Linked DNA regions of Homo sapiens. The protein of the gene in region 2 interacts with the protein of the main gene of each other region in a biochemical or structural test. Each region holds a gene or a part of one and is shown on either strand. Other genes may lie near its edges.

Evidence for each region.
Region 1: the proteins of PTP4A2 (region 2) and DUSP22 form a complex in vitro, tested with the Homo sapiens proteins (one large-scale study listed by BioGRID).

What each region holds. Positions count from the first base shown.
Region 1 is NC_000006.12:330,487-333,986, reverse strand, and holds part of DUSP22 (dual specificity protein phosphatase 22), read right to left. Parts: intron 1-3,500. UniProt on the Homo sapiens protein: Dual specificity phosphatase; can dephosphorylate both phosphotyrosine and phosphoserine or phosphothreonine residues. Activates the JNK signaling pathway.
Region 2 is NC_000001.11:31,931,869-31,935,368, reverse strand, and holds part of PTP4A2 (protein tyrosine phosphatase type IVA 2), read left to right. Parts: intron 1-3,500.

The DNA of each region.
Region 1 (3,500 bases), on a different chromosome or scaffold from region 2:
CTAAATGTGTAGCTGCCCCTAATCCTTCCACACCTCCTACACATTTTAATAGCCCCTGACATTGTGAGTCCTACTTTTCCAATACAGGCACCAGACACACTTCATGTCCCAACCTCCCTCGCGATTAGGGACTCCCCACCTGGCCCTCAGGAGTCGGATCGGCAGCTACTGAGTGGGATCCGGGAAGCACACGTGGGCTTCGTGGGCGCAGGGCGGGGGCAGAGCACATGCTCTTTGCGGGGCAGGTGGGGCAGGGGTGGGCTGGCTCGGGGCAAAGTGGGCGCTGAGCTTGGGGCCAGTTTTCTGGGGATCACTCCTGAACTTCAGCCTAAAACCTGTTCTCCATCTATTCTGAGGGAACCATGAGCTTTCAGTCTCTCTTAGTAAAAGCTGTTTCCTGCTGAAACTGAGTCAGAGCAGGATCTGTTCACTGCAACTAACACCTAAGTGAGAGAATTCCCTCTTGCCTCATCCACAATGATGAGGGGTCAGAAAAACATCTTTCCCCTCACAGTTTCTGTATGCTTTGAATCAAAAACGTTTTCTCCCTCACAGTTTCTGTACATTTTGTTTCCAGCTTTAAATCAATCTTTACACCTTCCAATAAAGGCCCTTTTGGGTCTTGAAGGAGATGAACTTTATTGCTGTTTATCCACATGGGAACATCTCACTTAAGACCAAATGGGCTTCAACCATGCCAAGGGTTAATTTAGAATCTGCTGGTGGAAGAGGAAAGTGAGGCAGCAGCTTCTCCCTCCTTTGCCTTCACTTTGTTATCCCCAGTTGCCTCCTCCTGTCTCTGTCCTCATTTCTCCTGGGCTTGTGGGCTGTGCTCTGCTGGGAACACTGAAAGTATCTTCAAACCTAGAGTGGTATTACAGCTCGGACTTCAAGGGAAAACAAACGGAAAAGGAAGTATTATTGTTAAAAGTAATTTCAGTCCTTTCCTTCGTGGAGGCCAAACAAGCTTGTTGGTATAGATGCACATACATTGATCACCTCCTGCAGCCACCATTGAAATGACTCATTCACTTCTTTCCTTTTACTCTTAAGTGAGAGTTGGCAGTCGATCAGTCCAGAAGCTTGTGAAATCCTTTCCTCCCACACTCTCCCTCCACGCTCCTTGGAGACCAGCACCTCCAGACAGACCAGAAGGAGCCTCAAGTTCCCACCTTCCCTTCTAGTGCCATCTTCAGTGTCAGCGACTTCCATCTGGCAAGGAAGCTTAAGACGAGATGGAAATGCCGGCGTCCCCCAGATGTTGACTGACAGCCACTTTATTCCAGCAGAATCTAAAATCAGCCTAGTCTATATATCAAGAGGAAAGAAAAAAAAAAAAAAAGAAGGACAGGAAGAGAATGGACAGAGGGTCTGCTGAATAGCTCTTTGCTGGCTATAAATACCAGCCGTGGGACTGGACAGTATTGTGCTTCCTATGGGCAGTCTCCATGTGTGGTTGTGTTCCCCTTTGTGGCACCCGATGAGCAAAAGGACCAACTCAGGCTGGTCCCATGAGGCAGGAGCACCTTGTCAGGTGGGCACGAGAATCTACCCACAGGAAGACGGCAAAGGCTATCTCTCCATCTGGGAACCACCAGGATGAGGAGGCAGCTCTTGGCCATGCTGGCCCCTGCCCACAGTCGCTGGGGTGGGCGTGTGGAGCTGCAGCCTCCCATCTGTGAATCCTCTGAAGAGGAACAAAATGGCTCCCAACCACAATTTGGGGACCACCTGCTGCTAAGGCAGGACAGATAAAAATAGAAAACCTGAGTCAAGATTATATTCTGTTGAAGACAGAATGACAACAGCAATGATAACAAGCTTCCCTGCAAGGGTGCCCGGCACACAGCAGGCACTCACTGAAATGTCTGCAGAGTGATGAGACAGAGGATGAGAACAATGAACACAAAGATCACACTGCCAGATGAGTGCAAGGAAAGAAAAATACTGTAAAGCACCATCATTTGTGCCAGTGACCACGAAACGAGAGCTGGGCTTCAGCCCACACCATGCAAACAGCAAGCCACCCACACATGCTCAAGGGACACCAGCGTCCCTCCTGGCCACTGCAACAGGACGCAGCTGAGAGCCAGTCGGCGTGATCCACAATAAGAATATGCAAACTCAGTCAAGGAAGGAGTCAAAACTGTCAAAAAGGTTCAGCTGCTCGCCACCTAAGAACATCTATTTATCTTGGTTTAGTTATTAACAAAGCATGAAAAGTCTCTCCCAAGCCACAGACTACAGAATTTGAGTTACCTTAGAACAGCTTCAGATACCTGCACATGTGTACAATTCATGACAGTTAATTACTAATTCAGAAAGCAGCATGAGTCCCCCAGTGCCACAAGAAAGCTGGCCCACTTAAAAGTATCCTAGTACTAATGAATAAGTTCTGCAAATGTTTTAATGTGATGTGGAATAGATGGTTTCACCAAATAGGTCCTCAAGACAGGACCACTCTCCGGTTTTGAAGTTTACAGAAATAGAAATAAAGGACAGGATAAGTTTAGATAAATTATGGAAAGTATAACAAACTTGGAGGTTAAAAAAAAAGCAATAAAAATTCTAGAACAATCTGAAAAATTTGTAAGTAATGAAGATAACAGCAATGTTTCCATTAGTACAGTGTTTGCTGTAAGGTATTCACTCCCTCATACTACCTCTAATATTTGAAAAAGTAAAGATAAAATGGGTTGTCTTCCTGTAGCAATAAAAGTCTCACTAAATAAATAAGAATTCAGCACTTTCCACGATGTTCCAAAACAGTGGATTGGTGGAAAGCCAATTAACATCACAGTTTTATGAGGCTATTAAACGTCAAGTTACGGTGCTTCAATCTCGAGTACACTGAAATACAAAAACAAGCTCAGTTAAGAAAAATGGGCTCTGTGTTTGCTTCAAGACCGTCATGATTTCTATGAGGACAAAGAAAGAGCAGCGATGATGGCATTTTAAGTGGCGTAACATGACGAAGTGAGTACCAGGAGAGGAAAAGGGGGAAGAAGTAAGGAACAGTCTCTACCTGTGTTGAGGGGACCAGGTGTACACCGTATATTACTAACGCCAAGCAGCATGTATAAAACAATTAGTATAGAACAACCGGTATAAAACCACGTGATGTAAAAATTTGGAAGATGCTGCAAAGAGGCAGGAGAGATGGGGGATCTGCTAAGGACAGCTTTCTAGTGAAGGTTTTGTGTTTAGGTTTTGAAAGAAACAACAGACGTCACTTGGAGGAGAAGAAAGTTCAGAAGGTTTTCCAGCGGCTCTTCAAACCAGAGCTTAGAGCTGCCTGAGTCCATCTTCTCAAAAGTTCTAAATACTTTTCAGTTTTCTGTTTCAACAAGTATAGTAACCACCAAAAGTAAGGTTTTTACCTTTCTTTGGGCCTGAAACTAAAGATTACACTTAAAACGATACGGAGGCAGGTCCCTGAAAAGCAGGGCCAAGGTTCTGATTTCACGACTGGTAAAGAAAGAGATCAAACTCTCGCTTGT
Region 2 (3,500 bases):
AGATGCTGACTGGAGGCTCTTTGGGGCCTAAGCTAGGCTTTTATGTGGGAGGAGATTATGCCTTGAAACTCTCTTGGGGCCCCGGGGTGTGTGCTTTGAGACAGTTTTTATGAGGCACCTGGGATATGTCTGCGTGAGGGAAGTCTGATTAAAGAAATGCAGCAGCGTCTTATGTTTTTTATTTTTTGGAAAAAGAGGAGAGTATATTTATTGGGGCCAAGAGTGAACTAGAACTTACCACTGTATCAAAGTTTCTCTGTTGAGCTGTGTGGGACACTTAAATCAGAAGAAGTGAGAAAATACACGTGAAAGCACTTTGTTAATTATAAATTGAACTACAGATTCAAAGTATTATTACCACTAAGATCTTTCTACTAAGGCAACAGATTTTGTAGCTGGAAAAGGCTGGCATTTTAGAACACCTTTATAGATGAAAAATAGTTTTGAACTGCTGAACGGGGTATTTTCTGACTCAGAACAGCAAAAGTCAGGCCACTCCCTCTGTGAGTCAGTCAAGTAAAATTTAATTTGAACGAACCAAATTTATAGGCAGAAACCATTTACAACATCATTGAACTTTGTAGCACTAGGAAGAGTAAATGTTTGAATACTTTTGTGTATAGCTTTAAAAAACAGTATGAGAGCCCCATATATAGTTGACTTGAAAAAAGTTTCAAACAAGGTAAATTGGATTTATTTTTCTTTAGAATTAACTTTTTATTCATTTTGTCCTATAAAGGTAGTATTTCCTTATGCAGTAATTAAGGAACACTTTACAATTTTCAGACACAAAGTTGAAATTTAGTAGGGATTTATTTTACAGGATTTGACTATACTTTTTCCTTTTTGTTGTAATGTGGGGGTTGGTAACCACTGAAGCCTAGAAAACGAATGTATTTACAAATAAGATGGAGAGGAGCAGGTGCATACATTTTTAGCTGTTGCTCTTGGTCTTGGAAGAATGAAGCTTAAGTTTTTGTGAAACTAAGTTTGGTTGATTTATTTGGGTGCTATTCCATCAACTATATTTGTTGAATAGAAGATGGGATCTTTAAAATTTTGCTTAAGAATCAGGATCCATAGTCTTTTTTGTTTGTTTTGGTTTTTTTTAAGACGGAGTTTTGCCCTTGTTGCCCAGGCTGGAGTGCAGTGGTGCAATCTTGGCTCACTGCAGCCTGCGCCTCCTGGGTTCAAGCGATTCTCCTGCCTCAGCCTCCTGAGTAGCTGGATTACCGGCACACGCCACCACGCCCAGCTAATTTTTTGTGTTTTTAGTGGAGATGAGGTTTCATAATGTTGGCCAGGCTGGTCTTGAACTCCTGACTTCAGGTGATCTACCTGCCTCGGCCTCCCAAAGTGCAGGGATTACAGGCATGAGCCACCGCGCGGCCCAGGATCCATAGTTTTAACATGGTGGACTTAGTTATGTTTATCGAATAGGGTGATGGTAGAGATCTTGGGGTACTGGTAAAGTTCAATATTACCCTTTCAGGGTTTAGGTTTCCACATTCCTTTCTTACGCCAAATCATGTATTGTCTCATTTGAAACTCAATAATCCTGTAAGTAGTATTCTTTTAGCTTTACAGATAAGGAAATTTATTTATAGATTGATTGTTGTTGGGTTTTGTTTTATTTTGTTTTCTTCCAGACAGAGTCTTACTCTGTTGCCCAGGCTGGAGTGCAGTGGTGCAACCTCAGCTCACTGCAGCCTCCACCTCCTAGGTTTAAGCGATTGTCCTGCCTCAGCTGGTATTATAGGCGTGCGCCACCACGCCCAGCTAATTTTTGTATTTTTAGTAGAGACAGGGTTTCGCTATGTTGCCCAGGCTGGTCCCGAACCCCTGAGCTCAGGCGTTGAGTTGCTGGCCTCAGCCTCCCAAAGTACTGGGATTTGATTATTAAATCCCAGGTTTTAGAATCTAAGTTAAAGATTATCAATAAATAGATAGCAGTGAATAATTTTTTTTTTCCTTTTAGGGGCTTAAAGTACTTAAATCTCTGTTGAACAGTGGATACCACCAGTTATAATTACTTTGGGAGATGGTGATTTGAGTCTCTTAATCTGTGAAATATTAGAAAAGTCTTGGCTAGGCACAGTGGCTCATTCTGGGAGGCAGACACGGGAGGATCACTTGAGGCCAGGAGTTCGAGACCAGCCTGGGCAACATAGAGACAACATCTCTACAAAAAATACAAAAACTAGCCAGGCATAGTGGTATGAACCTGTAGTTCCAGCTACTCAGGAGGCTGAAGTGGAAGGATCACTGGAGCCTGGGAGGTCAAGGCTGAAGTGAGCCGAGACTATGCCACTGCAGTCTAGCCTGGGAGACAGAGGGAGACCCTGTCTCAAAAAAAAAAAAGAAAAAATCTTTTCACCATTTTCATCTTTTGAACTATTAACTACGTATAGAGGTGTCAGTTAGCTTTCTCTCATTATCCTTTGTTTTATTGGCTGAACCTCATTCTATGGGCTCCCTTGACTCCCTGGCCACTGTCTTGGCACTTGAAGCCTTTTAGGTTGCTTAGTGTAGAGCTGAAGTGCATATTGTGTGAAAATCTTTTTGCTCTTTGGAGTGGTAGAGGTCTAGGCTCAACCAGAAACTGTCACTACCCTAGCACCTCCATGAAAGAAGCTGCACAGCAATACTAGCTGTCTGCTTTCCACAGTTCCCCATTGTGGAGTTACCAGGACTTAGGTGAGAGAATGACTCGTTTCCTGCACTGTTTGTTCAGTCAGTGTAGATTTACAGGACACAGAAATCTTTCCCAGAAAAATGACTGTGAGGAGTTGACAGATTATACAGATATTTTTTATGTGACTTGAATGTAGACGGTTTTTGTTTGCCTATACTGATTTTCTTGCCCACAGGTTATGTTAACACAGCATCCACTTCATTTTAAGTGGCCTAAACTAAATTTCATCATTTGAATATAAATTTACCTTACACAATGTTGGCTTTTTAAATTCTTGAGAATTTTAAGATTAGGCTTTTTTGTGACCCTTTCTTTGCTAGTTGAGCCTGGTTTGAAAAAATATTTTGAACATTTAGAACAGTCTTTACCTTTAGAGAAGTGGTGCATTTAATTCCTCTCATAGTATTTTTTATTTGAACTTTTAGTCTTCTCAAGACATTAATTCTTTTGGCATAAAATGTACACATGATATATTTGTTTTAGCAGATCAGATAAATTACTTTATATTTTTATTTCTGCAGTGGCCAGATATGTTGGCTGTTAACTAATGTATTGTTTGACAGGAATTCAAATTCACAATCAGGTCTGTTTTCTTCCAGTTGTCCTTTAGTTTTTGTTTAAATTTGACCAACTTTTTATTTTCCCCACCGTTTTACAGGAAACATTCACTAGGTTGTATCACCACAGTATTTGTAAATTGGATTTATATACAAATGTTGATATTTGTTGTTTTTAGTAGCAGAACAAATTGTTGTGTATTGTATTTTCCATTATTGGTGAAAAGCCTTTCATTAGGGGATGGAGT